Linked DNA regions of Homo sapiens: all the other regions are linked to region 1. Evidence: fine-mapped expression QTL. A gene starts in region 1. Each other region holds a variant in brackets. All regions are shown on one strand. Distances are from middle to middle.

Region 1 (4,066 bases):
GCAAGGCGCTAGCTGGTGCCTGCCACCCAGTGAGCACTCTATAAATGGGAGGCATTATCTCTATGATTGATTAGTATTGTCATTATCATTATTAACCTGGACACATCACTTAATGTTTTTACTATCTTAAAGGTAGTTGCTATAGCGAATAAATGCTTAACATAACTGAGCTCTTCTCATCTGTAAAAGGGACTGTTGTGAGGTTAGGGGTGCCGCCGGCACCGCACTCAGCTGGAGTGACAGCAAGCATGTGAGGTGCCCAGCATGGGATGTGAGCTGGCATGCAGCAGGGGGCCTTGTGTTTCCTCTCTCCTTGGGTTGCCAAGCCCCTGGAGCTGCTGTGCCTGGGGAGCAGAGAAGGGGACACTTTGGGGTCTTCAAAGATGACCAGGCAACAAAGCAGGAACACCGCTAGGTAAGAGCAAGCAAGCCCAGAGGAACAGCCTCAGGGTCCAGATAGAGACGTACACGCCTGCCTCCCTGGGGTCTTTGGTGGCCTCCCGAACAAGCAGGTGTGGATGGGGAGATGGACTGCCTTGGAGAGAGCTACATGAGTTCCAGCTCCACCAGCCCCCAGAGCCTGAGCAGGTGACTTCACCTTTCTGAATCTCTGAACATCCATTTCCTCCACTGTACAATTTCATTAAGATACATACAAGAATATCCAAAGCACAGTCTTTGTAATAGAAAAAAAATCCTAGAAACAACATCCAACAGCAGGTGACTGAATAAGTAACCAGTGGTATATTCATAAAATGGGACACTATTCAGTAGTAAAATAAATTACAGGTATGCAGGCAATCAAAATGGATTTTTAAAAATATAATGCTGTATGAAAAAGGAAGTCACATAATTATGGAATGACTCCGTTTACACAAAGTAAAAAATAGCAAAACTATACAATATCCCACTTAGGGATGCATACAGAGGTGGTAAAACTACAAGAAAAAGCAAGAGAATGACTAGCACAATTAAAGTTCAGGAAACTAGTTCTTCAGGATGTGGGCAGGAGGCTGTGATGGGGGCACCCAGAGGGCCTCAAGGTACTGGCACTGGTCTATTTTTTAAGTTAGGTGATGGATACATGGCTTTTTTATTATTACTATTATTCTTTAAGCTGTACATGTACAGTTGTGTCTATGGTGTCTTTTACAATAAACAAGTATTTATTATAACACTAGCACTTATAGGATACATGCCTATGATGAGGTAGAGAGAATGTAACAAAGGACTGGCACATAGTAAGCACTGGTGGCATGTGGCTCTGTCCTCCAGCGTGTGGGCTCTGTGTTTTCTCTCTCTCTCTCTCACTCACACACACGCACGCACACACACACACACACATAGGAAGCCAGGCTCCCCTCTGCCCTCAGTCACTCGTGGTTCACAAAAATGGCAAATAATAGGAGCACTAGAATAGGAGCTCTCCATCCTGGTTCGAGTCTTTCCAGCTGGGGCAGTTTAGCCTTTGCAGAATTTCTCAAGGGTAACATCAGCATAATGACCTCTGTCTGTAAGCCCGTGAGTGTAAGCCTGTAAAGTGCTGTGCTCATGCGAGGGATCAGGTCTGACCTGGGAAACTAAAAGCATCTTCATGGAGCAAGGGTGCTCCTCCAGTGGGGGCGCTCAGTGAGTTCTGCGGTATGGGTGACAGTATTCTTGTGTGGACAGTATTCATGTGGTGATTGGGGTAAATGGCCCTCTTTTGCCTGGTTTTCTGCCTCGGTCATTGTGCATCTGCTGACTGAACCTGCCTTTTGGTCCTAGTAAAGTACAGATTTCAGGAAAAGTGTACCTGGCCCCGGGGGTGGCCAACCTCTGTGTGACGGCTTTAAGCACAGTGTGTCTTGAGGGGGCCTGACTCCATCTGAAAAGTGCCTGTCTGGATGTACCTGTCTATAACCATGGACCTGCCTCCAAGGTGCGTGGACCAACCTCCGCGTACCTGATTCACTCGATGCGCACCTGGCCGTACGTAGCTTCATCAGGCAGGGTGTACCTGTCAAGTTCTTAGGTCCGAGTGTTCGCGGCTTTACCTGTCCTGGTACCGCCGTCCGCACCTCGGTCAGTGCGTCCCCGGCAGGTGCGTGTACCTGATTCAGTCCGTGCTTATCTTGCGCATACGGGCCGTTCAGTGTCCCGCTCGGAGCTCGTCGCCGCCGCAGCCTTGAGGCTCCGACCCCCGCTTGGGCCCCGTCCGGCGCGCAGCGGCCGCGGGGGCGGGGCCGCGACGCGAGGAGCGGAGCAGGAAGGGGCGAGGCAGCCCCGCCCCCGGGGCGGTCTCCCGGGACGGCCCCGCCCCTTGCCCGCTTCCGCGTCAGTGCCTCACCACCACCTGCCCGCGCGCCGCCCCATATAAAGGCGCCGCCGTCCTTACCCCCAGGACTCGGCCCCATGGAGACGCCGCCGGCCGCCGCTGGCGCATGGCGGGGTGAGGCGCGGCGGGGAGGGTGCGGGCCTCGGCGGGGAAGCGGCAGGGAGCGCTCCGGCGGGGTCCGAGCCGAGCCGAGGGGAGGGGACGGGAGGGGACGGGAGGGGTGGAGAGGGGAGGGGACGGAAGGGTCGGGGTCCTGTTCCCCGGCCCGCCGGGCCTCAGGACCCCTCCAACTTTGCCCAAGTTGGGAGAGCCGGGGAAGAGCACCAGGTTCCTGATCGGGATCGCGGGCCGAGCAAGCGCGGGTCTCGGGCCGGGACAGCCTCGGCGTCACCAGCTCCCGGCAGCCAACCAAAGTTTTCCAGCAACTTTTCTCCCCACGGGTCACCCCAGAAACTTGCCCTCCCCGGCTCCGGGAGTCCGGCCATGGGCCTTGCGCTGCCTGGGCCTGAGCTCTGAGTGCCGGACGGGTGGGCGAAAGTGGTGGCCTCAGTGGGGAAGCCTTGGGCCCCGCAACGCACTTCCAGCCCCAGGATTCCATCTGAGAGCCCCGTCCCTGCCTTCTGGGTCCCCTGGGTTGGCGTGGGGGTTCGAGGCTTTACAGCTGGGGTAGTTCCAGTCTTAGTTCAGACTAAGTTCCGATCTTCGAGCCACCAGCTAACAGCTGGATGACCTTGAGCACGTTTTTAATGTCTGTGCCTCAGTTTCTCCCTTTATAGAATGGGAATGGGAATGCCTAGCTGGGAGAGCTTTTGAGAGGACAACCTGAACTAATAACACGATGCAGTGTGTAGTGCCACCAATCCCTCATCCTGCTGGATGTGGTTTTGGGAGGGAGGTTAGGAGAGAGCGCTATTCACCGTCCCTAACCCTGTTGGTTGTTCAGTAGGAGCTGTGGCGCGGGGCCTTCCAGGAGTCTGAGCTATGAGTGGCCCCTGTGGAGAGAAGCCTGTCCTGGAAGCCAGCCCCACCATGAGTCTGTGGGAATTTGAGGACAGCCACAGCCGTCAGGGCACCCCAAGGCCGGGTCAAGAGCTGGCCGCTGAGGAGGCCTCGGCCCTGGAACTGCAGATGAAGGTGGACTTCTTCCGGAAGCTGGGCTATTCATCCACGGAGATCCACAGCGTCCTGCAGAAGCTGGGCGTCCAGGCAGACACCAACACGGTGCTGGGTGAGCTGGTGAAACACGGGACAGCCACCGAGCGGGAGCGCCAGACCTCACCGGACCCCTGCCCTCAGCTCCCTCTAGTCCCGCGGGGTGGTGGCACCCCTAAGGCTCCCAACCTGGAGCCTCCACTCCCAGAAGAGGAAAAGGAGGGCAGCGACCTGAGACCAGTGGTCATCGATGGGAGCAACGTGGCCATGAGGTAAGTGTCACTTCTGTGGCCAGGACACATGAGGTTCGCATCTCTCCTGTGGCCAGGACACATGGAAGGATGACTGTCTCTGCAGCTCTGGTGGGCTGGAAGAAGTGACTTCCTTCTTAGGGACTGGTCTAGAGGGAGGGAAAGCCTTTTATGAGGCTAGGGTCGCGCTACTGGTAAGTGACAGAGGCAGGGTTCCAGCCCAGGTCCCTCTGTCCGCAGAGCTTACCTTATGCTGTGGGTCCCTCCCTGAGGCCAGCACTGTGTCTCCACTCCTCTCCTGTAATGTGAGGCAGGGCTGTAAAGGGGACCAGCCCGTGGGCAGCTG
Region 2 (4,066 bases), 24 kb before region 1:
ATTTATGGGATCTAGTTGTCACTGCCAGTCTGAAATCTCCTTCCTATATCCTTAGCACAGTTGGGTCTATATTGGGGGGCTGCTGATGTTGCCACAACTGAACCCCTCCACTTTCCCAACCTGCTCCTCCTCCAGGCTCTCCAGCTCAGAGAAAGGCCCCACCATCATCCCTGCCTTCCCTCCCCACCCCCAGCAGCCACAGTTCACCTTAACCAACCAGCCTGAAGTACTCAGCTCAGCCTGCAGGGATGCCAGCACACCTGGCGGGACTCTCCTTTCCCTCCCACCAGCCTCCAGAGTCAGTGTCCCTGAAGCCACCTGGAATCACATCACCTTGCTCTGAGCCTGCAGCAAGTCCCCATTGCCCTGAGATGAAGTCAAAGCAACCTGCCACTCTTCACAAGCCAGCCCCGACTGGTCTCTCCAGACTCATCTTCTTACCCCTACTTCCTTCCAGGCCAGATTCAGCCACCTCAATTTCTCAGCTCCCTCCCCACCCCGCCCTTGCCCGGACTGCCTCTTCTCCAGCCCTGTTCACTCTGCCCTTGCCAGTTCCACAGAGCCATTCTCTCCCTGCAGCGCCACCCAGGCATGCCCCTGCTCCTCAGATCTCCTGTGGTATCTTCACCATTTCTACCCCAAACACACCCTATGCCGGGTGACACCCACCCTGAGGGAGTCACAGCAGAGCAGGATTTCCATTAGTATTGTTTGCCGGAATGAAGTCATTCATCCAGGTATCCAGCATCTATGCAGCACTTGCCACACTCCTGGTGCGGTCTGGGCCCTGGGGCATAGCCATGATGAAGATGAGGCCCTCGTGAGTAGGACTCAGATTGCGTCAGAGGATAACTATCCGAATGAATGCTGGCCCTGGCAGAGGCCTTAGCTACTTCCTAATGCTTCTCCAGACAACAGTGTCCAGGACCCCAGGGCTCCAAGGCAGCCTCCCCCGCCCCTCCACATTCTCAGCCCCCACTATCGCCTGCCATCTGAATGTGCAAGGTAGATGTGCACACCAACCCCTGGGCATGGGTCCTGGGGGTAGAGCTGGGTGGGGAGCTGAGGCTGGCATCCCTGTATGTGCTAGTGCCCGACCTGGGTGCACACAGCTGCCAGGGAGTGGGGGGAGCCTCCACAACTGCCTCACCCGCGCACCTCCCCAGCCTCTGCTGGAACTGCTCCTGGCTCCTGGCGCACCGCGCTCCTGTTGTTTAGTTTTTCTGAACACCGAGTCTCAACCCCATGTTAATTGGTTTTACTCCACTCTTTTGTGCCACCCATTAAATGAGGAAATGCCACCCATAAAATTTTAATTTTAAAAGCCAACTTGTTTGTTTTATATTGAAATTCCCCGGGCAGCTCCAGCAGAGGGAAACAGACACATTTTCGTTTCATTAAAGCAACTTGAATGAAGATGAAAAAGAAGCTGAAAAATTAGATTTAAAAACAGAGAGTGAGAAGCATTTAAAGAAAATGAATGAAAGTGAGCTGCCACAGAAGGCGGTGGGGACCACAGCTCCATCTCTGCCTTCCCAGAGCCTCCTGCAGGGAGACAGTGGAGCAGAAGTGGGAAGCTGGGAGTGGAAGGGGACACTCTGGGTGCCCCCAGAAGGCTGGACCATGCACTCTCCTCTCACTAAAGCTGGCCCCCTGGATATCCTAGAGGAAGGAGGGTAGAGCATCCTGGACCCTGGGACCAGAAGCATCCTTCCTCCCTGGGGACAAACTGCATGGCGATGAGGCTTGCTGGCTTGGAAGCTGAGCCGTCTGGATGGTCCTGGCTCTGCCACTTACCAGCTCTGTCAAGGTGGGCAAGTGGCCTGTTTTGCTCTTCGTAGTGATGATCTGTAAAACAACCCAGCTTATAGGGTTGGTATGAAGATTAAATAGAATAGTACCTTGAAAACACTTTAAATAGAGCCCGGTATGCAGTAGGTCCATAACAAATGTTAACTTTGACTAATGACATCCGGCTGCCTCCCTTCCATTGCATACTCCTTACACATTGCCCCTGCTGAGTGCACCTCCCTCCTTCCCTTGCCCACACATCCCCCTCCCCCATACCCGCCACCCACTTCCTTTTTTTAGGAGGCAGGGTTTAGCTCTGTCACCCAGGCCGGAGTGCAGTGGCACAATCAAAGCTGACTGCAACCTCGACCTCCTGGCCTCAAGGGATTCTCCCACCTCAGCACCCCTCCCCAAGTAGCTGGGATCACAGGCATATGCCACCATGCCCAGCTAGTTTTTTTTGTTTTTTTGTAGAGACAAGGTCTCGTTATGTTGCCCAGGCTGGTCTAGAACTCCCAGGCTCAAGCAATCCTCCCACCTCAGCCTCCCAAAGTGCTGGGATTACAGGTGTGAGCCACCTCTCCGGCCTTTTTGGGTTTTTGTTTTGTTTTGTGTTTTGTTTGGTTTTGACGGAGTCTCCCTCTATCACTCAGGCTGGAGTGTCATGGCTCACTACAGCCTCAAACTCCTGGGCTCAAGCAATTCTCCCAC[T/A]TCAGCCTCCTGAGTAGCTGAGACTATAGGCACGTGCCAACACGCCCAGGTAATTTTTAAATATTTTTGTGGAGACAGGTTCTTTCTCTGTCGCCTAGGCTGGAGTGCAGTGGCACGATTCCGGCTCACTTCAACCTCTGCCTCCCAGACTCAGGTGATCCTCCCACCTTAGCCTCCAAAGTAGTAGCTGGGACCACAGGCTCGCGCCACCACGCCTGGCTAATTTTTAAAATTTTTTTTAGTAGAGAAAGGATTTCACCTTGTTGCCCAAGCTGCAAAGTTCCTTTTAATGATGTCCCTGAGCTGAAGACAGCTACAAGAGACTGCGGACGGTCTGATGAAAGGCTTGGGAAGCCTCATTCCTTCGCAATTCAATTCTTGTGGGCCAAACCAATTAAAATGTTCGTATAATCCTTCCAAGGAAAGCCAGCCTCCCTGGGTTCAAATCCCAGCTCTACCACTCACCACCTGTGTGTTCTTGGGCCAGTTTCTTCTGGGCCTCAGTGTCTCTATCAATAAAATGAGACTCACAGCTGTCATGAAGGTCACAAAAAACAAGCTCTGTGGAGTGCTGGGCAGGTAACCGGCCAGTGAGTGGCGGCTTTTACTTTCAGCATCAGTTGGAGACACAGCAGCAGGAGAGGGTGTGGGGGTCTGAAGCTGCGGAGGGGGAGGGCAGGGCAGGGGTTCCATCACAGAATGACCTCGTGGGGGTTCTCAGCTATTGCCCTAGGGTAACTTTTTTTTTTTTTTTTTTTGAGATGGAATCTCGCTCTGTTGCCCAGGCTGGAGTGCAGTGGCACGATCTTGGCTCACCACAACCTCTGCCTCCCGGATTCAAGCGATTCTCCTGCCTCAGCCTCCTGAGTAGCTGGGACTACAGGTGCACACCACGATGCCAGCTTTTTTTCTTGTCACCCAGGCTGGAGTGCAGTGGCACCATCTTGGCTCACTGCAACCTCTGCCTCCTGGGTTTAAGCGATTCTCCTGCCTCAGCCTCCCGAGTAGCTGGGATTACAGGCACCCGCCACCACATCAGGCTAATTTTTTGGTAGAGATGGGGTTTCATCATGTTGGCCAGGCTGGTCTCAAACTCCTGACCTCAGGTGATCCACCCGCCTCGGCCTCCCAAAGTGCAGGGATTACAGGCGTGAGCCACCAGCCTAATTTTTGTATTTTTAGTAGAGATGGGGTTTCACTATGTTGGCCAGGCTGGTCTCGAACTGCTGACCTCTGGATCCACCTGCCTCAGCCTCCCAAAGTGCTGGGATTACAGGCGTGAGCCTCCGCGCCCGGCCGCCCTAGGGTAACTTTTAATGACACTCCCTTTCATTCCCAAACGTATCCTAATCTGGATGACTAATTATATGGTCATCCTACTCCAAATCCCCCACGCCCAAGATGGGGCCTGGGAGCTGGCCCATGGTGTTGGGAAAGGGTTCTACTCCTGACCTGTTTTCCTTTCCAGACCCTTGGGATTGCCTAAGCCCTGGGTCCCAGCCCCAGCCCTAGCCCACTCTCAGGCCAAGGAAACTCATTCCCTCAATTAGCATTATAAAGCGGC
Region 3 (4,066 bases), 46 kb before region 1:
CTCCAGGGTTCAAGTGATCCTCCTGCCTCAGTCTCCCCAGTAGCTGGGACTACAGGCGTGTACCACCACGCCTGGTTAATTTTTGTATTTTTGGTAGAGATGAGGTTTCGCCATGTTGGCCAAGCTGGTCTCAAACTCCTGACCTCAGGTGATCTGCCCACCTCGGCCTCCCAAAGTGCTGGGATTACAGGCATGAGCCACCATGCCCAGTCACAAGTTGCTCTTTAAAGACTGCACATGTATCACTCTCCCTCAAGGGCTCTGCATCGCCCCCAGGTATAGCCCAAACTCTTAAATGTAAGGCCTCCAAAGCCTTGCATGCCAAGGCCCCAGCCCAACCCTCTGACTTCCTCCTTTACCATCTCCCCATGACCTTCCAGATCCTTCTGTGACCTAGAGAAGTTATCTCCAGGCCCCACACTCTCTGGCCTCCAGTCTCCACTACACACCATCCCTGCCTGAAATACCTGAAACACCTTAGTCACCCGCAGCCTTCTCCCCTTCATCCCTTGGGTCTTGGCTGAGGCACCACAACTATCTGGCATCTTCACTGACTTCATTGACCCACAGCCTGAGTTAGGAACCCTTGCCCGATGCCCCTGGTACCCCACTGTCATGGCAGTACTGTGCATGGTAATCCTGTGTCTACATACCTAGAGCCCCACTTAACTACAGGCCCCATAAGGCAGGAGTTAAGTCTAATTCAGTGTCTGGCACAGAGTCTAGCACTGTTGAATTGAATTGAATCAAACTGAATTGAATTGAATTAAATAGAATGAACACCACAGCCCAAGACACTAACCGAGGCTGTGATCAGTGCCCTCACAGAGACCCAAATAGAGTCCTCTGAGGGGGTCAGAGTAGGGCAGTGTGCTTCCTATGGATGAGTCTGCAGAAACGTCCTAGACACATCCCCAAGGAGAAACACCAAGCCACACCTTCCTTAGTGGGACAGTTCATGAGGCTCGGGATCACGAACTCAGCAGCTCCCACTCAGTGGCATGCCTTACACCAACTCACTGCTTCTTGTCTATCTACTCCACCCTCCTAAGGGGGCACCCTCAGTAATCCCTACCCTCAGGTGCCTGTCTGCTCCCAGCTTCACACTACTTCTATTACAGGAACCCCCACCTGCACCTCTTTCACACACACACACACACACACACACACACACACGTACACACGCATGCACATCTCCAACTTAGCCCCAAGAGCATCTGAGCCTGAATTTCACACATTCCTAGAGGAAGAAATGGGGGTTCAATATTGGACCGTAAAATTGGTTTCAAAGGAGCAAAAAGGCCAGGTGCGGTGGCTCACGCCTGTAATCCCAGCACTTTGGGAGGCCAAGGCGGGCGGATCACAAGGTCAGGAGTTCCAGACCAGCCTGGCCAACATGGTGAAACTCCATCTCCACTAAAAATACAAAAAATTAGCCAGGCTTGGTGGCGGATGCCTGTAATCCCAGCCACTCGGGAGGCTGAGGCAGGAGAATCGCTTGAACCCAGGAGGCGGAGGTTGAAGTGAGCCGAGATCGTACCACTGCACTCCAGCCTGGGTGACAGAGCAAGACTCCAT[C/CA]AAAAAAAAAAAAGAAAGAGGAGGGAAGGAAAGAAAGAAAGAAAGAGAGAGAGGGAGGGAGGGAAGGAAGGACGGAAGGGAGAGAGACAGAGAGAGAAAGAGAGAGAGAGAGAGAGAGAAAGAAAGAAAGAAAGAAAGAAAGAGAGAAAGAAAGAAAGAAAGAAAGAAAGAAAGAAGGAAAGAAGAAAGAAAGAAAGAAAAGAAAGAAAGAAAGAAAGAAAGAAAGAAAGAAAGAAAGAAGGAAGGAAGGAAGGAAGGAAAGAAAGAAAGAGGGAGGGAGGGAAAGAAGGAAGGAAGGGAGAGAGAGAAAGGAAGAAAGAAAGAAAGAAAGAAAGAAAGAAAGAAAGACAGAAAGAAAGAAAGAAAAGAAAAGAAAGAGGCAAAAAAAATGGTATTTCTTACATACCTAAGTATGCAGATTGAGATTCCTATACCATAGCTAACATTTATTGAGAAACGTCAAGAAGCAAAACAAAGACCAGCAGAACTAAATTAAATAATAACAAAATAAAACAAAATCTGAAAGGCTGGGCATGGTGGTGCACACCTGTAATCCCAGTGCTTCGGGAGGGCAAGGCAGAAGAACTGCTTGAGGCCAGGAGTTCAAGACCAGCCTGGACAACATAGCAACATCCTGTCCCTACAAAAAGTGTTTTTAAAAATGAGCTGCGTGTGGTGGTATGCGCCTATAGTTCCATCTACTTGGGAGGCTGAGGCAGGAGGATCTCTGGAGCCCAGGAGTTCGAGGTTACAGTGAGCTACAGTTGTGCCACTGCACATCAGCCTGGGCAAACACAGTGAGACCCCATTTCTTTAAAAAACAAACAACAACAACAAAAACAAACAAACAGGCCGGGCGCAGTGGCTCACACCTATAATCCCAGCACTTTGGGAGGCCAAGGCAAGCAGATCACTTGAGGTCAGGAGTTCGAGACCAGCCTGGCCAACAATGATGAACCCCCCATCTCTACTAAAAAATACAAAAATTAGCCGGGTGTGGTGGTGTGCACTTGTAATCCCACCTGCTCGGGAGGCTGAGGCAGGAGAATCGCCTGAACCCAGGAGGTGGAGGTTGCAGTGAGCTGAGATCATGCCACTGCACTCCAGCCTGAGTGACAAAGCAAGACTCCATCTCAAAAAACAACAACAACAAAAAAAAAAAACCCTGAGTATTTTAATGTACCAGAAGTTCATATGCCAGTGAAGATATTCACCAAGTAGTTCACTGAAGGGGAAAATTGAAGGTTTTTTAATGCCAGAAAGGGTGAAGACAGTTTATTGTGGTTCTTTTACTCATAGATGAAAACTAGCACTCTACCAAGGGCGGGATGGAGGATGAGTCCAGTGGTTATACACAGCTGGACACAGCAAATCCCATTGCTCATAGGTCCAGGGTCTCCAGTTCAGTCCAGAAAGGATCTGGCACATGTCACATGGTGACAACAGCCCTCGGCTTTGATCCATCATAGGCGAGTGCTGCTGAAAGTGGATGTTCTCCCTTGCCCGGTGCTAACACTTCTTGTGCACTTACTATGTTTAAGGATTCTGCCTCCCTCAACCAGAGGGGCAGTGGTTAAGAATCCAGGCTCGGGGCCAGACCACCTGTATCCAATCCCCCATTTAAGACTTGAATGAGTCAATACCTCAGCTTTCTCTTCTATAAAATGGGTAATGATAGCAACTACCACATAGGATTGTCAAGAGGATTAGATGTGTTATTCTGTGAACAGCCCTTGGTAGATACAATCTTTTAAGAGATGACCATTATTATCTCATTAATCTTGACATCAAGAGGCAGATCGTATTCTTATCTCTGTTTTACAGATGGGGCACTGTGACTTGCTCACAGCCTACTTCCCACCATACGCAGCTGCCGTCACCACTGCACCCTGGGTTTCAAGAATTGGCAGTGTCGTGCCAGGGCTCAGGGTGGGGAGGACTTGCTTATGGTGGCCATTACTCCACAGTGATGCTGTGAGACGCTGCTATGGCTTAAATAGGGTTTGTTTGGCCCCACCAAGTTTCATCCCCAGTGTTGGAGGTGGGACCTGGTGGGAGGTGTTTGGGTCGTGAGGCTTGGTGCCATTCTTGTGGGAGTGAGTGAGTTCTCACTCTTAGTTCCCCTGAGAACTAGTTGTTGAAAAGAATCTAGCATCTCCTCTTCTCCCTCCCTATCTCTCTCCCCCTCTCGCTCCCTCTCCCTCTTCTGTCCCCCTCTCTCCCTCCCTTTCCCTCTTCTCTCCCGCTCTTTCTCTCCCTCTCCCCTTCTCCCTCTCTCTCTCCCCCATCCCTCTTTCTCCCCCTTTCCTCTCTCTCTCCCCCTTCCCTCTCTCTTTCTCCCCCTTTCCTCTCTCTTTCTCCCCCTTTCCTCTCTCTCTCCCCCTTTCCTCTCTCTCCCCCTTCCCTCTCTGTCTCTCCCCCATCTCTCTCACCCCTCTCCCTCCCTCTCCCTCCCCCTCCCTCTTTCTCTCCCTCCCTCCCTCTCTCC
Region 4 (4,066 bases), 260 kb before region 1:
ATCTCACACCAGTTAGAATAGCAATCATTAAAAAGTCAGGAAACAACAGGTGCTGGAGAGGATGTGGAGAAATAGGAACACTTTTACACTGTTGGTGGGACTGTAAACTAGTTCAACCATTGTGGAAGTCAGTGTGGCAATTCCTCAGGGATCTAGAACTAGAAATACCATTTGACCCAGCCATCCCATTACTTGGTATATATCCAAAGGACTATAAATCATGCTGCTATAAAGACACATGCACACGTATGTTTATTGCGGCACTATTGACAATAGCAAAGACTTGGAACCAACCCAAATGTCCAACAATGATAGACTGGATTAAGAAAATATGGCACATATACACCATGGAATACTATGCAGCCATAAAAAATGATGAGTTCATGTCCTTTGTAGGGACATGAATGAAATTGGAAATCATCATTCTCAGTAAATTATCTCAAGGACAAAAAGCCAAACATCACATGTTCTCACTCATAGATGGGAATTGAACAATGAGAACACATGGACACAGGAAGGGGAACATCACTTTCATGTGCGTCCGTGTGAAAAGACCACCAAACAGGCTTTGTGTGAGCAACATGGCTATTTATTTCACCTGGGTGCAGGTGGGCTGAGTCTGAAAAGAGTCAGCAAAGGGAGATAGGGGTGGGGCTGTTTTATAGGATTAGGGAAGGTAATGGAAAATTACAGTCAAAGGGGGTTGTTCTCTGGTGGGCAGGGGCGGGGGTCACAAGATGCTCAGTGGGGGAGCTTCTGAGCCAGAAGGAAATTCACAGGGTTAATCACTCAGTTAAGGTGGGGCAGGAACAAATCACAATGGTGGAATGTCATCAGTTAAGGTGGGGCAGGGCCTTTTCACTTCTTTTGTGATTCTTCAGTTACTTCAGGCCATCTGGGCGTATATGTACAAGTCACAGGGGATGTGATGGCTTGGCTTGGGCTCAGAGGCCTGACAATCACACTCTGGGGTCTGGTGGGGGGACAGGGGAGAGATAGCATTAGGAGATATACCTAATGCTAAATGACGAGTTGATGGGTGCAGCACACCAGCATGGCACATGTATACATATGTAACTAACCTGCACATTGTGCACATGTACCCTAAAACTTAAAGTATAATAATAATAATAAAAGAAAACCCTGCTCTTAGAGGGTTCATCATCTAGAAGTGAGAGGAAGATGTGAAAACAAAATTTTGTCATATGCTGTGGTCAAGTGTTTAAATGGAAGTATTAATAGGAATCTAAAGGAAATACATATGACTAAAATAAAAGAAAGTGAATTCAGCCCTGGGAGTAACAGAGACGTGCAAACAAGATGAGAGGCATTGTCTTGGAGCATAAACAATGTGGTCCTGGTTAGATACTGTACTTAAAATAATATTGTAAATATTGCAGATTTATGGGTTAAAGACTTTGCTGTTGTGGGCTAAGAATCTAACCAGTTCCAGACGACCAACTTTTAAACAGACTTTTGGAGTAGAGTTTCTAAATGTTCTTAAAGGTTCCTGTCAGGCCTTTGAGCCCAAGCCTGTATGTATACATGCAGATGGCCTGAAGCAAGTGAAGAATCACAAAAGAAGTGAAAATGGCCAGTTCCTGCCTTAACTGATGACATTACCTTGTGAAATTCCTTCTCCTGGCTCAGACACTCCCCCACTGAGCACCTCGTGACCCCCGCCCCTGCCTGCCGGAGAACAACCCCTTTGACTGTAATTTTCCACTACCTACCCAACTCCTATAAAATGGCCCTACCCCTATCTCCCTTTGCTGACTCTTTTTGGACTCAGCCCGCCTGCACCCAGGTGATTAAAAAGCTTTATTGCT[C/CA]AAAAAAAAAAAAAAAAAAGAATCAATTCAAAATGAATTATACAAAAATTAGCTGGGCATGGTGACAGTTTCCTGTAATCCCAGCTACTGGAGAGGCTGAGGCAGGAGAATTGTTTAAACCCTGGAGGCAGAGGTTGCAGTGAGCTGAGATCGTCCCACTGCACTACAGCCTGGGTGACAGAGCAAGACTTTATCTAAAAAAAAAAAAAAAAAAAAAAAATGGATTAAAGACTTAAAAGTAAGACCTGAAACTGTAAGACTACTAAAAGAAAACATAGCGGAAAAACTTCATGACATTTGTCCAGGCAATGATGTCTTGGACAGGATTCCAAAAGCTTAGGCAACAAAAGCAAAAATAGAGAAATGGGATTGCATCAAACTAAAAAGCTTCTGCACAGCAAGGGAAACAATTTACAGAGTGAAGAGACAACCCATGAATTGGGAGAAAATATTTGCAAACCACACATCTGATAAGCGGCTAATATCCAAAATATATAAGAAATTCAAACAACTCCATAGTAAGAAAACAAATAACCTGATTTTAAAATGGGCAAAGGATAAGAACAGACACTTCTCAAAAGAAGACGTATGAATGGCCAACAGACATATGAAAAATACCAACATCTCTAATCATCACAAAAATGCAAATTAAAACTACAATGAGATATCATCTTACAGCTATTAGAATGGCAATTATGAAAAAGATGAATGACAACAAGTTTTGGAGAGAATATGGAGAAAAGAGAACCCTTGCACACTATTGGTGGGAATATAAATTAGTACAGCAACTTGGGGAAATGGTATGGAGGTTCCTTAAAAAACTAAAAATAGAATTACCATATGATCCAGCAATCCAACTTCTGAGTATATGTCCAAAGAAATTGAAATCAGTATGTTGAAGAGATGTCTGCACTTTCATGTTTATTTCAGCATTATTCAGGATAGCCAAGCTAGGGCAGCAACTTAAGGGTCCATAAACAGATAAATGGATAAAGAATATGTGGTGTATATATATACCCAATGGAATACTACACAGCCTTTAAAAAGAAGAAAATTGTGTCATTCATGACTACATGAATGGACCTGGAGGACATTATACTAAATGAAATAAGCCAGGCAAAGAAGAAAAATACTGTATGATTTCACCTATAGGTGGAATCTTAAAAAGTTGATCTAATAAAAGCAGAGAGTTTAAAAGGTTGTTACCAGAGGCTGTCGGAGGGTGGGAGGGATGGGGAAAGGAAAGATGTTGATCAAATGGTACAAAGTTTCAGTTAGAAAGAGGAATAAATTTTAGTAATCTATTGTACTGCATGGTGATCACAGTTAATAAATGTATCATATATTTCAAAATTGCAAAAAATAATAGATTTCTAATGTCCTCAGCACAAAAAGAAATAAGTTGATAAGGCGATGGATATGTTAATTAGCTTGATTGGATCTCTCTATAATGTATACATAGATCAAAACATCACACTGTAGCCAGGCATGGTGGTGCCCACTGTAATCCCAGCTACTCAGGAGGCTAAGATGAGAGGATCGTTTGAGCCCAGGAGTTCACTACCAGCCTGGGCAACATAGTGAAAGCTTGATACTCAGTCTCCAAAAAAATAAAAATCACATTGTAACCCAATAAATACACAAAATTATTTTTCAATTAAAAACAATTTAAAATGTTTTAAAATTTTAATAAGGAACTTCAATTTAAAAATAAGGAAATTTTGACACATGTTATAACATCAATAAACTTTGGGGGCATTATGCTAAGTTATGTAAGCCAGTCACAAAAGTACAAATACTGTATAATTCCACTCATAGGCAGTACCCACAGCAGTCAAATTCAGAGAAACAGAAAGTAGAGTGGTGGTTACCAGGGGCTGGAGGGGAAGGAGGAATGGAGAATTGTTTAATGAGCATAAAGTTTCAGTTAGCAAAGATGAAAAAATTTTGGAAAGGGATGGTGGTGATAGTTCCATAACAATGTGAATGTACTTAATGCCACTAAACTGTACACTTAGAAATGGTCAAAATGATAAATTTTATGTTATGTATATTTTATCACAATTTTTCAAAAAATCACCTTGGAAAGAAAAGCCCTTCCAAGTCAGGGAAGAGAAGATGAGGAACCGGGGTGTAGATATGGCAGGATGTTTTGGAGCAAAAAGAAGCAGCCACGCTAGAAAACTTGCTCTTCCAGGCTGAACCATAAAATAATGCATTTTAATGTGTTTGAGAGG
Region 5 (4,066 bases), 230 kb after region 1:
CCACACCCGGCTAATTTTTGTATTTTTAGTAGAGATGGTGTTTCACCATATTGGTCAAGCTGGTCTCAAACTCCTGACCTCAGGTGATCCACACACCTCAGCCTCCCAAGGTGCTGGGATTACAGGTGCAAGCCACCACACCCGGCCTCCATCTGTTCATCAACTAACATTTGCCCATCCGATTGTAGTAGGCCCAAGAAGTAGACATGGGGCCTGCCCTTAGAAAGCAGCTCAGTGGTCAAGATGGGTTTGCAATCATGGTACCTGTGATATGCGCAATAATAGAGATGTTAAAGGGTGGTGCAGAGGAGGGCACCACCGAGGTATGCGCTTAGTCTAGAACCCGGACCATGAGCTGTGCCTTCAGCTTTGTATAACTTAAGGGATTCTGAAGCAAGCTGAGCTCAGTGTCTCTGGGCTGCATGGAGCGAGTTGCTGACCTCAGCCCCTGTGAGGGGAGGACGGTTTGTTTCAGACATACTCTGCAGGGCATTTCTTAGATGATGTGCGTGCCTTTTGTGCCCAGGTAATCCAGCCTCCACCCTAGTGATAGTGCTGATGAAGTCATTGTCTCCTTAGAGCTAATATCCTTCCTGCCTGTCTTGCCACTTCTCCATCCCAGCCATTCCCCACCACTAAGTGCAGGATATCAGGGGAACCTAGGGGTTCCGGCCCTAAGGGCCATGGCCAGTTTAACCCACTCCCCTTTCTATTCAGAGCCTGCGATTATTGGCCAGTGACTTGCAGAGGCACAGTATTGCCCAGCTGGATCCAGAGGCCTTGGGAAACATTAAGAAGCTCTCCGTAAGTCTCATATTCATCTCCACACATAGGATGCCTCCAGTAGCTTTCTTGGGCTACCTTTATTTAGGATTGTCTTTTGGGCCTGGGCTAATACTTTCTACTTAAATTTGTGTTGTCTTCCTTCCCCCAAGAGATTTTGACTCTTACCCTACTTAGATAGCAGCAGTTCTGTTCCTCAGTTGATGTTGAGTTTTGTTCAATCCCAGGGTGCCTGCCACAGAAGTTCCACTGCAAAATCAAAATTCTGCCTCATTCAGGCAGTTAGTGCTAGGGGTATGTTAGGTCACTATTGGCCACCAGAAAGTGAAACCTAGAGTAGCTCAAGAATGAGGGTCGGGGCTTGTTATCAGGAATCTTACAGAATCAAAGAGCGAGCTGAACGGCCAAGCCTCTGGAGTGGTGGGGCCCATCAGCTGGGGCCTGTGTGCTCATTTCTCTCACACATCTTCATTCCTCCCTCAGCAGATAACCTTCTCCACAGGCTCCAGGTTCTGTGCTTACTTAACATTGTTTTGCATGTGGCTTTGAGTAACCACACCTCCAATCCCAACTTTATTGCTCTATTGCCCAATTGTTCAATTTCTTGTCTTGGTTTAAATTCTGAAGAGGGCCAGGCACAGTGGCACACACCTGTAATCCCTGCAGCTCAGGAGGCTCAGGTGAGAGAAATTGTTTGAGCCCATGAGTTCAAGGCTGCAGTGACCCATGATCGTGCTGCTGCACTCCAGCCTGGGTGACAGAGAAAGACCTCAGCTCTAAAAATAAAGTAAATTATCAATTTAATTTAACTGAAGAATGTAATGGCTCCGCCAGGGATGAACCTCCTTGGTCTGGTCAGCCATCATCTTGGGTGGTGGATGAAGCACTTAGTGTAAACATGGCAACCTTACCCTCATCCTTCTGTGGGGTCTGAAGGGTACATCCAAGGAAGGGGACAAGGCGGGGCTGGTTTCCTAAACCTGTCTTTCTGAACATAGGCCCAGTGCTGAGATCCCACACACACCTAGCCACCCAAATCTTGTGACTGTCATCCTCTAGCTAGATCTATTGCAATGTTCTTCTCAAATCTATGATACCTTTACTGTCTCACTTGAGTTGTTATTTTACTCCCTTGTTCAGATGAGAAACAGGTTCAGAAAGGTGAATTCATGTGTGATACAGATAGAGAATGGAGGGGCTCAGGCTGACTGTGGGAGGCCAAGGGGCAAGCCTGCCAAGTGACATCTTCTACAATGACCTCTCTCCTTTTCTTTTTAGAACCGTCTCGCCCAAATCTGCAGCAGCATACGGACCCACAAATGAGACACCAAAGTTGACAGGATGGACTTTTAATGGGCACTTCTGGGACCCTGAAGAGACTTCTTCCCTTCAGGCTTATTGTTTGAGTGTGAAGTTCCAGAGCAAGGAGCCATGTTCCTCTAAGGGAATTCAGGAATTCAGACGTGCTAGTCCCACACCAGTTAGGTAGAGCTGTCTGTTCACCCTCCCATCCCAGCTGATCCCAGTCACTGCTTGCTGGGGCCATGCCATGGAAGCTTCCCATCAGTCTCCCAGCTGAATCCTCCCTGCTCTCTGAGCTGCTGCCTTTTGCCTCCTGCAACTCAACATCCTCTTCACCCTGCCCTGCCTGCAGTTGAGGGGGC[G/A]AAGAAGAACCCTGTGTTCTCAGGAAGACTGCCTCCACCACCGCTACCCAGAGAACCTCTGCATCTGGCATTTCTGCTCTCTATGCTTGAGACCGGGAGGTTTAGGCTCAGATAAGTGAGCTCTGGGCCATGAGAGGGTAGGTCCAGAAGGTGGGGGGAACTGTACAGATCAGCAGAGCAGGACAGTTGGCAGCAGTGACCTCAGTAGGGAACATGTCCGTCTACCCTCTCGCACTCATGACACCTCCCCCTACCAGCCCTCCTCTTCCTCCTCCTCCTCCTCCTGTGGGAGGTGGTCAGTGGGACTTAGGGATCTTTCACCTGCTGTGCCCAGTAGTTCTGAAGTCTGCTTGTGGAGCAGTGTTTTATGTTTATCCCTGTTTACTGAAGACCAAATACTGGTTTGGAGACAACTTCCATGTCTTGCTCTTCTACCTCCCTAGTTAGTGGAAATTTGGATAAGGGAACTGTAGGGCCCAGATTCTGGAGGTTTTATGTCATTGGCCACAGAATAACTGTCTCTAAGCTATCCATGGTCCAGTGGTCCCTGCCAAGTCTGTAGACTTCAGAGAGCACTTCTCTCTTATGGGGTTCATGGGAACAGGGGTGGGTGTGACTTGCTTGGTGGCCTCATTCCATGTGTGCCTGTGCCTGGGGCATGGACTTTGTTAAGCAGAGTCAGCAGTGAGGTCCTCATTCTCCAGCCAGCCTCTCTGCCCTGGAGAATCATGTGCTATGTTCTAAGAATTTGAGAACTAGAGTCCTCATCCCCAGGCTTGAAGGCACATGGCTTTCTCATGTAGGGCTCTCTGTGGTATTTGTTATTATTTTGCAACAAGACCATTTTAGTAAAACAGTCCTGTTCAAGTTGTATTCTTTTAAGTTCTTTTATTCTCCTTTCCCTGAGATTTTTGTATATATTGTTCTGAGTAATGGTATCTTTGAGCTGATTGTTCTAATCAGAGCTGGTACCTACTTTCAATAAATTCTGGTTTTGTGTTTTCTTTTGTAATCACTGTTCATCCTGCCTGTCCTCTCCAAGCTGTGCTCTGTGGACTAGGGAGACAGCAATTGTGTGGGAGTCTTTGCACATCTGCTTTTCTCAGATGTGAAAACCTTTGCTTTGGGCAGATTCATTCTGATATCTGAAAGAGGGGCTTACTACAAGATCCAGAGCATCGGTACCTTCAACCCCCAGCAGAGCGCCCCCAACACCTTCATTCCATGAGCTAGAAATTTGTGTCTGGGAGGACAACACCTAGGGTCTCTGTAATTTCCCAGTATAGTAGACTTTTCTTGGCCAGGAACAAAGCGGGGCAAGAGTAATTCGGTGATCATGAGTCTCACTTCCCAAAGTTTCTGAGGCCCTGGCAGATCTGCCTTCCCGGAACTCTCTAGGCTGAAAATGATCAACCTAGAGCTAATGATGCAAGAGGGTTCTGCCTAAAAGAAGACAACCTGGGGGCATACTTAGCCAGGTTATTGGGTATTGACAATTTATAGACTAGGAATCTTCTGGTAGTGACAGCATTTGGAAGAATGGTTACTCAGTGCAAATAAGCAACCCAGACTATATGTCATCAGGCCTAAAGAGCCTGACACCAAGGAAACACTTAGGA
Region 6 (4,066 bases), 58 kb before region 1:
ATGGCTTACTACAGCCTCAACCTCCCAGGCCCACCTCAGCCTGAGTAGCTGGGACCACAGGTGCATGCCACCATGCCCAGCTAACTTTTTAATTTTTTGTAGAGATGGAGTCCCATTATGTTTCCCAGGCTGGTCTCAAACTGCTATGCTCAAATGATCCTCCCACTTCGGCCTCCCAAAGCACTGGGATTACAGGTGTAGGCTACCATGCCCGGCCCAGAGTCTCTTTTAACCACTACCTAAGTTACATCCCTGCTGGCATGCTGCATTCCTGACACACTGTCTGGGCTACACTGCAATACACATACATGCACACACGCACATCCATGAGGGCTTGTCATGAATAAAACACCAGCAGCGGCATTTGGAGCCTTTATTCAGTGAAACAGACATGGATCCCTGAGTGACAAAGTGGCCAGTCTGATGGGAAGAAGTACAACCCCTGTCTTGGAGAACCTTCCAATCAGATGGAAGAAGCAGAGAAACTACATAGGTTCAAGCTGGGGGGTGTCATGAATCTGAAGGGAAGTATCCTATTGAACTGTTGACTCCCTGACTCCATTTCAGCTGGTCCTAAGAAAGCCTTTGGGGTTCCTGGGAGCTCCAGGATGAGCTCTCCCTGAGCCTCTCTGAAAGTGAAAGTTTGGAGAAAGCGAAGCATGGCATCTCAGATGATCACTTCTCTCACACTCCAGAGAAGGTGGGGGAGGGGGGAATCTGCTACAGCTAATTAGGAAAATGCATTAAGAACATAACTTACAAATGGCCCCATGGGTCCCCACATCTCATTTGCATTGAGCTGTTGTTACCTTATTGATTATATTAAATTAGGAGATAGTCACAACTGTCTGCAATACAACAATTACCATCATCAAACCAATTAGTATCAAATGGGATGTGGTCCCTGTCACTCCAGCGCTGCACTTGGCTATTTCCAACACCGTTAGCCCAGCCTTACGAAATAATTGTGTTTCTAATGAAATGACGGCAATCAGCAGAGATATTCCCAAGAGATCCACTCCTATTTCTATGGCCCTGTGTCAGGATAGCTTGAAACACAAGCACAGGCCGGGCGCAGTGGCTCACGCCTGTAATCCCAGGACTTTGGGAGGCCAAGGTAGGTGGATCACTTGAGGTCGGCAGTTTGAGACCAGCCTGGACAACATGGTGAAACCCTGTCTCTAGTAAAAATACAAAAATTACCCGGGTGTGGTGGTATGCACCTATAATCCCAGCTACTTGAGAAGCTGAGGCAGGAGAATCACTTGACCCTGGAGGTGGAGGTTGCAGTGAGCCGAGATCGCGCCACTGCACTCCAGCCTGGGGGACAGAGCTAGACTCTGTCTCAGAAAGAAAAAAGAAAAAAGAAAGAAAAGAAACACAAGCACAAGCAAAATGATACAACTGGTGTCTTCAGTAGCCAAGTCCTTATGGACAAACTACCCCTGGCCCCAGAAACCCTTCATCCATCAGTCACAGAATTTCATTCATAGGTAAGTTCACACACAATCCATGTGTGCAAACTTGGTTGTCAACACCCTCTCACAACTAGAATACACACATAAAACATGTTCAAACCTGCTCACACGGAGACACA[C/T]GCCTCTCCATGAACTTCATGCACACACTCCCACAGCTCACCCTTAAGCTGTGCCTCAAGGCACTCATACTCACCCACGCACCCTCACACCCTGTCATACCTTCTACACAGGTCTGCACCCAGCACACATGTACAGTTACACACACGATTGTTCACCCAACACATATAAGCAAGCACACGCTAAACAGCCACACACTTGTGCAAGGAACCAAGCGCAGGATATAGACTTATACACACACAGCCCAGCATCCGCATGGTGACTCATCACACTCCCCCACAGTCACACACAAGCACACACCAGTTTTGGAGACACTTTAGACAGAATCCAGAAGCCTGGCAGGAGGACCCTAAGACCGCTTCTCCTCGCTGCTCAGGGCCAGGAACCTCATTCTTCAGAAACCTCCGCACTACCACTCTACAACCCCCAAGACTGGCATACCTACCCCGTGGTGTAGGAGGAAGCCTTGTCCAAGATCACTGGCAGCTTTACAGTTCTCTCAACGATTGCAAAGGAGGCAAGCGAGGAGAGAAGGGCAGAAAACCAGATGCCTTGGGCTTTCCTGTGCAGAGGCAGCCTTTGCAGAGGAGCTTCCTCATAGCTTCTCCTTTGCGATGGTGTCTGTTCATTTGCTCACATGGCTTTACCCCAGTTGCCATTTATTGAGCACTTACCCTATGCCTGTCATGGAGATATCCCTTCCTTGACTCAATATTTCCTGGGTGCCTCCCATACCCTGGGTGCTGTTTTGGGTGCTCGAGATTCCACCATAAGCAAAACATAGTCCCTGTTCTTGTGATACAGTCTACAGGCAGAGACCGACCAGAAAGTTGTAAACCACTACATATAAATATGTAAGAGCTATGAATAAAAATAAAGCAGAGAGAACAGAGCGTGGGTTGCTGTTTTAGACAAGGAGGTCAGAAAGTTCCCCCTGATAAGGTGACATTTAAGGAGTGACCTGCCAGAAGGCGAAGCAAGCCATGTAAATACAGCCCTGTGTCACATAACAGCGCTTCGGTCATCCACGGACCACATACACAAACAGTGATCCCATAAGCCTATAATGGACCTGAAAATGTCCTATCACTAGTGACACGGTAGCTGTCATAACATCAAGCAGTGGAAATGTCATAGCACAACAGGTTACTCATGCCTTTATGGTAGGACTGGTGTAAGCAAACCTACTGCGCTGCCACAGTCGTGTAAAAGTCTAGCACAATGGGTGGGGTGCGGTGGCTCACACCTGTAATCCCAGCACTTTGGGAGGCCAAAGAGGGCAGATCACTTGAGGTCAGGAGTTCGAGACCAGCCTGGCCAACATGGTGAAACCCCATCTCTATTAAAAATACAAAATTAGCCAGGCATGGTGGCACATGCCTGTAATCCCAGCTACTTGCAAGGCTGAGGCACAAGAATCGCTTGAACCCCAAAAGCGAAGGTTGCAGTGAGCCGAGATCGCACCACTGCACTCCAGCCTGGGCAGCAAGAGCGAAACTCTGTCTCAAAAAAAATAAATAAATAAAAAAGTCCAGCACATACAATTATGTACAAGTACATAATACTTGAAAATAAACGACAATGTTACTGACTTATGTATTTACTATGCTATGCTTTTTATTGTTATTTCAATGTGTACTCCTGCTACTTATGAAAAAAAAAAAAAAAAAACTAACTGTAAAACAGCCTTAGGCAGGTCCTTCAGGAGCTATTCCAGAAGGCATTGTTATCAGAAGAGATGACAGCTCTATGTATGCTATTGCCCCTGAAGACCTTCCAGTGGGACAAGATGTGGAGATGGAAGACAGTGATATTGATGATCCTGACCCTAGGTAGGCCTAGGCTAATGTGTGTGTTTGTGTCTTCATTTTTAACAAAAAAGTCTAAAAAGAAAAAAAAAGAAAAGGAAATAATTTTATAATAGAAAAAAGCCTAAATTGACAGTTTTTACAAAAGGTATATATGAAAAGAAAAAAATCTTATATAGAATAAGGATATAAACAAAGAAAATAATTTCATATAGCTGTATATGTCTATGTTTTAAGCTATGTGTTATTACAACAGTCCAAAAGTTTTTACAAATCAAAAAAAGATAAGAGTAAAAATGTTACATTTTTATTATTGAAGAAAAGAAAAAAGTTTATGAATTTAGTGTAGCCTAAGTGTACGGGGTTTATAAAGTCTACAGTAGTGGGTCGGGTGCGGTGTCTCACGCCTATAATTCCCAGCACATGGGAAGGCCGAGGGGGACAGATCACTTGAGGTCAGGAGTTTGAGACCAGCCTGGCCAACATGGCGAAATCCTGTCTCTATTAAAAATACAAAAGTTAGCCGGGCGTGGTAGCGCATGCCTGTAATTCCAGCTACTCAGGAGGCTGAGGCAGGAGAATCAGTTGAAACCAGGATGCGGAGGTTTGCAGTGAGCCAAGATTCCACCACTGCACTCCAGCCTGGGCGATAGAGTGAAACAC
Region 7 (4,066 bases), 32 kb before region 1:
CTTCCAAGCTTCCCCTCAAGCAGATGACGGCTGGGGTAGAGGTAGAAGATTTGCTGAGGAGGCTGGGTAGGGGCCAGGCTCTGTGCTGTAATGATCCACCAGCCACTGGAACCACAGTACCTGTGACCCAGGATTACTGTGGCAGCCTTCTAACTGGTCTCCCCGTTTCTGTCCCTGCCTCTCCAACCCCTCTTCAATTTATTCTCAACACACAGACCAATGTGAATCCTTTAAAACATAAGTCAGGCCGGGTGCAGTGGCTCATGCCTGTAATTCCAACACCTTGGGAGGCCAAGGCGGGTGGATCACCTGAGGTCAGGAATTCAAGACCAGCCTGGCCAAGATGGTGAAACCCAGTCTCTATTAAAAATACAAAATTAGCCAGGCGTGGTGGTGCGTGCCTGTAGTCCCAGCTACTCAGGAGGCTGAGGCAGGATAATTGCTTGAACCCAGGAGGCGGAGGTTGCAGTGAGCCGAGATTGTGCCACTGCACTCCAGCCTGGGTGACAGAGCGAGACTCTGTCTCAAAAAATAAATAAATAAATAAAAATAAAACAAAAGTCAGATCATGTCATTTCTATGCTCAAAATCCTACCATGGTTTCCCATCTCACTTGGAGTTAAACCTAAGTTCTTAAAATGGCCTCCAAGGTCATGTTCTTCTCCCACTACCCATCCCCCTCACTCACTCTGACCTCAGACATAACTGATGTACTCTCACCAATCTGGAACCCTTCCTCCCAATACAATTCACCTCCTTCAAGACTATCGAATGTCTTCCCAATGATGCAACTCTGACCCAATACCCCGTCACACGCTCCCAATCCCCCTCACCCTGTTTTACTGTTTCCTCCTGTGCTTAACCTTTTAACATGCATTGTAGGCTGGATGCAGTGGCTTATGCCTGTAATCCCAGAACTTTGGGAGGCCAAAGCAGGAGGATCACTTGAGCCTGGGAGTTTGAGACCAGCTTGAGAACACTGCAACATAACCCCATCTCCATCAAAAATAAAAAAAATCAAAAAATTAGCTGGGTGTGGTGGTGCACAACTGTAGTCTCAGGTATTCAGGAGGCTGAGGTGGGAGGATCACTTGAGCCCAGGAGTTCAAGGCTGCTGCAGCCCAGGCAACAGAGCGAGACTCTGTCTAAATAAATAAATAAAATAATATTGAAACGATCGATTTTGTTTTGTATATTTTAACACAATTTTAAATTTTTAATTTTAAAAAAAAGCACTAGTCTGGGCAACATAGTGAAACCCCATCTCTAATAAAAATAGAAAAATGTGTGGTGGTGCCTTCCTATAGTCCCATCTACTGAGGGGGCTGAGGTGGGAGGATCACCTGCGCCCAGGAGATCGAGGCTGCAGTGAGCCGTGATCATGCCTCTGCACTCCAGCCTGGGTGACAGGGTGAGACCCTGTCTCAAAAAGTAAATAGATAAATAAATAAATACAAATAAAAGTTTTAAAAGAAAAAAAAACCCTCCAGAAAACGAAAAGCTTGATGCGACTCTGAAGTCTAAGGAGAGGTGCTTCGAAGCCCGGCATAGCGGTGGGTACAGGCCATCTCCTCACCCCCACAAGTTGTCCCCAGGCCACGGGTACCACGTGACGCTGCTTCTCTGTGCCCCACCTCACCATGTTGGGATCCAAGTGTGGCTCATATTTCTTCTCAGAGTCCATTTAAAATGACTTTGAACCCCCAAAACCCAAACCAAACATGGTCTATTTCTCCATGAGATTCTAAAACTGGCAAAAAT[G/A]TGGTTTAATTCCTCTCCACGCCCCAAGCATTGGCCAACAAGCCTGTCTAGAGTAACGAGAATGTTCGACATTCTATTTGACTAGTCTATTTGACTATTGCTTAGGGCCCAGGCTCTGTAAAATTAGATGTTTACTTGTAGAAAACTGGTAAGGGGCAAGTGATTTCCATCCACTAGAGAAAATAATCCCAAAAGGTTATGGTTTTAATGTCCTATAGGCTATCAACCAATTTCATATCTAATTTAGTATCTTATTCCATCATCATTTTTCATGCGAGTTTCTCATATTCTTCTTTGAACCACCTTGTTTAAAGATTCTCTCATTGAGCTAAATAATATTTTGATGGTGCTCACTGTGTATTGCATGAGAATTATGGTTTTAATATTTTGAGAATTATACTTTGGCATCTGGGGGATCCAGACAGGTGCTTGTATGTTCCACACACAGTCCTGGGGCCACTTCTCAACTCACTGTCTCACCGCTCCTTCTCCTGCCGGCTTCTCTTGCATCCCCTCCGCTCTCCCTCTCTCTGTCTCTCTCTCTCTCTCTCCCTCCACTCTCCCTCTCTCTGTCTCTCTCTCTCCCTCCACTCTCTCTCTCTCTGTCTCTCTCTCTCCCTCCACTCTCCGTCTCTCTCTCTCCCTCCACTCTCCCTCTCTCTGTCTCTCTCTCTCCCTCCACTCTCCCTCTCTCTCTCTCTCTCCCTCCACTCTCCCTCTCTCTGTCTCTGTGTGTGTGTGTCTCTCCCTGTCTGTCAGTCTTTCTCTCTCTCCCTATCTCTCTCTCTTTCTCTGTGTCTGTCTCTGTCTGTCTCTCTCTGTCTCTCCCTCTCTCTGTGTTTCTATTTCTGTCTGTCTCTTTCTCTGTCTCTCTCTGTCTCTCTCTCTCTTTCTCCGTGTCTGTCTGTCTCTCTGTGTTTGTCGGTGTCTCTGTCTCTGTGTCTCTCTGTGTCTGTCTCTGTCTTTTTCTGTCTCTCTCTGTCTCTGTGTGTGTCTGTCTGTCTCTGTGTGTGTGTGTGTGTCTGTCTGTCTCTCTGTCTCTCTGTGTGTGTGTCTCTCTCTGCCTGTCTCTTTCTGTCTGCCTCTTTTTCTCTCTCTGTCTCTTTCTCTGTCTCTGTGTGTGTATGTATGTCTGTCTCTGTTTCTGTGTGTCTGTCTGTCTGTCTGTCTGTCTCTCTCTCTGTCTCCCTGCTCCCCCACCCCCACCACTGTCTTTCCTCCTTCTGTCTTCATTTGCTGCAGTCAGGGTTCCTACACGGCTACACTGACAGCTACACAGTGTTCCCTTGGGACCCTGGACTGTACACCCATTCTCAGGGTCCCTATTGTATGGGAGAGCACAGCCACCAATGAAAGCTTCCTCAGGCCTCCCCACACCTGAAAATCCCTGTTCTTCTCTGCTCCCACCCAGGCCATAAAACCAGGTCACATCCATAGCAAACTCTGCTTGAAACGCAGTCATTATGAAACAGAATATTTAACATCTCAGTTTGCATTCCACCACTTACAGTTCTTCCAGGGCTCTTCCCAGACAAGCAGGTGGTGTTTGCCTTATTCCTATAAAGGACCTGTCCCAGTGATTTTATTAAAATGAGAGGAGAAGAGGTTGGGTACCGTGGCTCATGCCTGTAATTTCAGCACCTTGGGAGGCCAAGGTGGGAAGATCCCATGAGACCAGGAGTTTGAGATCAGCCTGGGCAATATGGTGAGACCACCATCTCTACAAAACTAAATAAATAAATTAGTCAGGTGTAGTGGGTCATGCCTGTAGTCCCAGCTAGTTGGGAGGGCAAGGTGGAAGGATCATTTGAACCCAGAAGCTTGAGGCTGCAGAGAGCTATGATCTCACCACTGCATTCCATGCTGGGTGACAGAGCAAGGCTGTCTCAAAACAAAAACAAAAACAGAAAACTTAAAAATGAAATAAAATAAGGGGTGTGCTTCAAGTTCACATGTGTCTACACCCCTAAAATTAACATGATTTCTAGAAAACAACTATCCCCAACTGAGCTTCATTAGGTCGGAAAAAAAAAAAAGACCCTCTTATTCAGATAACCTGCTACAATATTTTAAAACTGATTATTGCCATTATAGAAAAAAGCTGGCTGGGGCACAGTGGCTCACGCCTGTAATCCCAGCGCTTTGGGAGGCCAAGACGGGTGGATCATGAGGTCAGGAGATCGAGACCAGCCTGACCAGCATGGTGAAACCCCATCTCTACTAAAAATACAAAAATTAGCCAGGCATGGTGGTGCGCACCTGTAATCCCAGCTACTCAGGAGGCTGAGGCAGGAGAATCGCTTGA

What was found. PIP is the estimated chance that this variant, and not a neighbour inherited with it, causes the effect.
Region 2: its variant is fine-mapped to the expression of LITATS1 in substantia nigra (GTEx, PIP 0.99). The same link has a PIP of 0.9 or more in whole blood.
Region 3: its variant is fine-mapped to the expression of LITATS1 in whole blood (INTERVAL, PIP 0.90).
Region 4: its variant is fine-mapped to the expression of LITATS1 in whole blood (INTERVAL, PIP 0.98).
Region 5: its variant is fine-mapped to the expression of LITATS1 in subcutaneous fat (GTEx, PIP above 0.99).
Region 6: its variant is fine-mapped to the expression of LITATS1 in thyroid (GTEx, PIP above 0.99). The same link has a PIP of 0.9 or more in unexposed skin.
Region 7: its variant is fine-mapped to the expression of LITATS1 in whole blood (TOPMed, PIP above 0.99).

Annotation. Positions count from the first base shown.
Region 1 is chr1:37,472,199-37,476,264 of GRCh38, forward strand. It overlaps LITATS1 (lncRNA induced by TGF-beta and antagonizes TGF-beta signaling 1), which reads right to left and starts at 2,245. Exons shown (of 3, transcript NR_038842.1): 1 at 1,946-2,245. ZC3H12A (zinc finger CCCH-type containing 12A) reads left to right here and starts at 2,382. Exons shown (of 6, transcript NM_025079.3): 1 at 2,382-2,431; 2 at 3,261-3,741. The coding sequence starts at 3,299. RefSeq lists silencers at 1,557-1,656, 2,117-2,576 and an enhancer at 3,227-3,326.
Region 2 is chr1:37,448,098-37,452,163 of GRCh38, forward strand. No RefSeq gene overlaps it. Among named protein-coding and RNA genes, the nearest start is that of LITATS1, 24 kb to the right of the region's middle. RefSeq lists enhancers at 3,261-4,066, 3,863-4,066. The variant T/A (reference allele first, on the strand shown) is at 2,503.
Region 3 is chr1:37,425,750-37,429,815 of GRCh38, forward strand. No RefSeq gene overlaps it. Among named protein-coding and RNA genes, the nearest start is that of LITATS1, 47 kb to the right of the region's middle. The variant C/CA (reference allele first, on the strand shown) is at 1,579.
Region 4 is chr1:37,212,859-37,216,924 of GRCh38, forward strand. No RefSeq gene overlaps it. Among named protein-coding and RNA genes, the nearest start is that of MIR4255, 53 kb to the left of the region's middle. RefSeq lists an enhancer at 446-1,001. The variant C/CA (reference allele first, on the strand shown) is at 1,830.
Region 5 is chr1:37,706,261-37,710,326 of GRCh38, forward strand. CDCA8 (cell division cycle associated 8) reads left to right here. Exons shown (of 10, transcript NM_001256875.2): 9 at 718-804; 10 at 2,062-3,459. The coding sequence ends at 2,106. Among named protein-coding and RNA genes, the nearest start is that of CDCA8, 16 kb to the left of the region's middle. The variant G/A (reference allele first, on the strand shown) is at 2,448.
Region 6 is chr1:37,414,123-37,418,188 of GRCh38, forward strand. No RefSeq gene overlaps it. Among named protein-coding and RNA genes, the nearest start is that of LITATS1, 58 kb to the right of the region's middle. The variant C/T (reference allele first, on the strand shown) is at 1,598.
Region 7 is chr1:37,440,071-37,444,136 of GRCh38, forward strand. No RefSeq gene overlaps it. Among named protein-coding and RNA genes, the nearest start is that of LITATS1, 32 kb to the right of the region's middle. The variant G/A (reference allele first, on the strand shown) is at 1,762.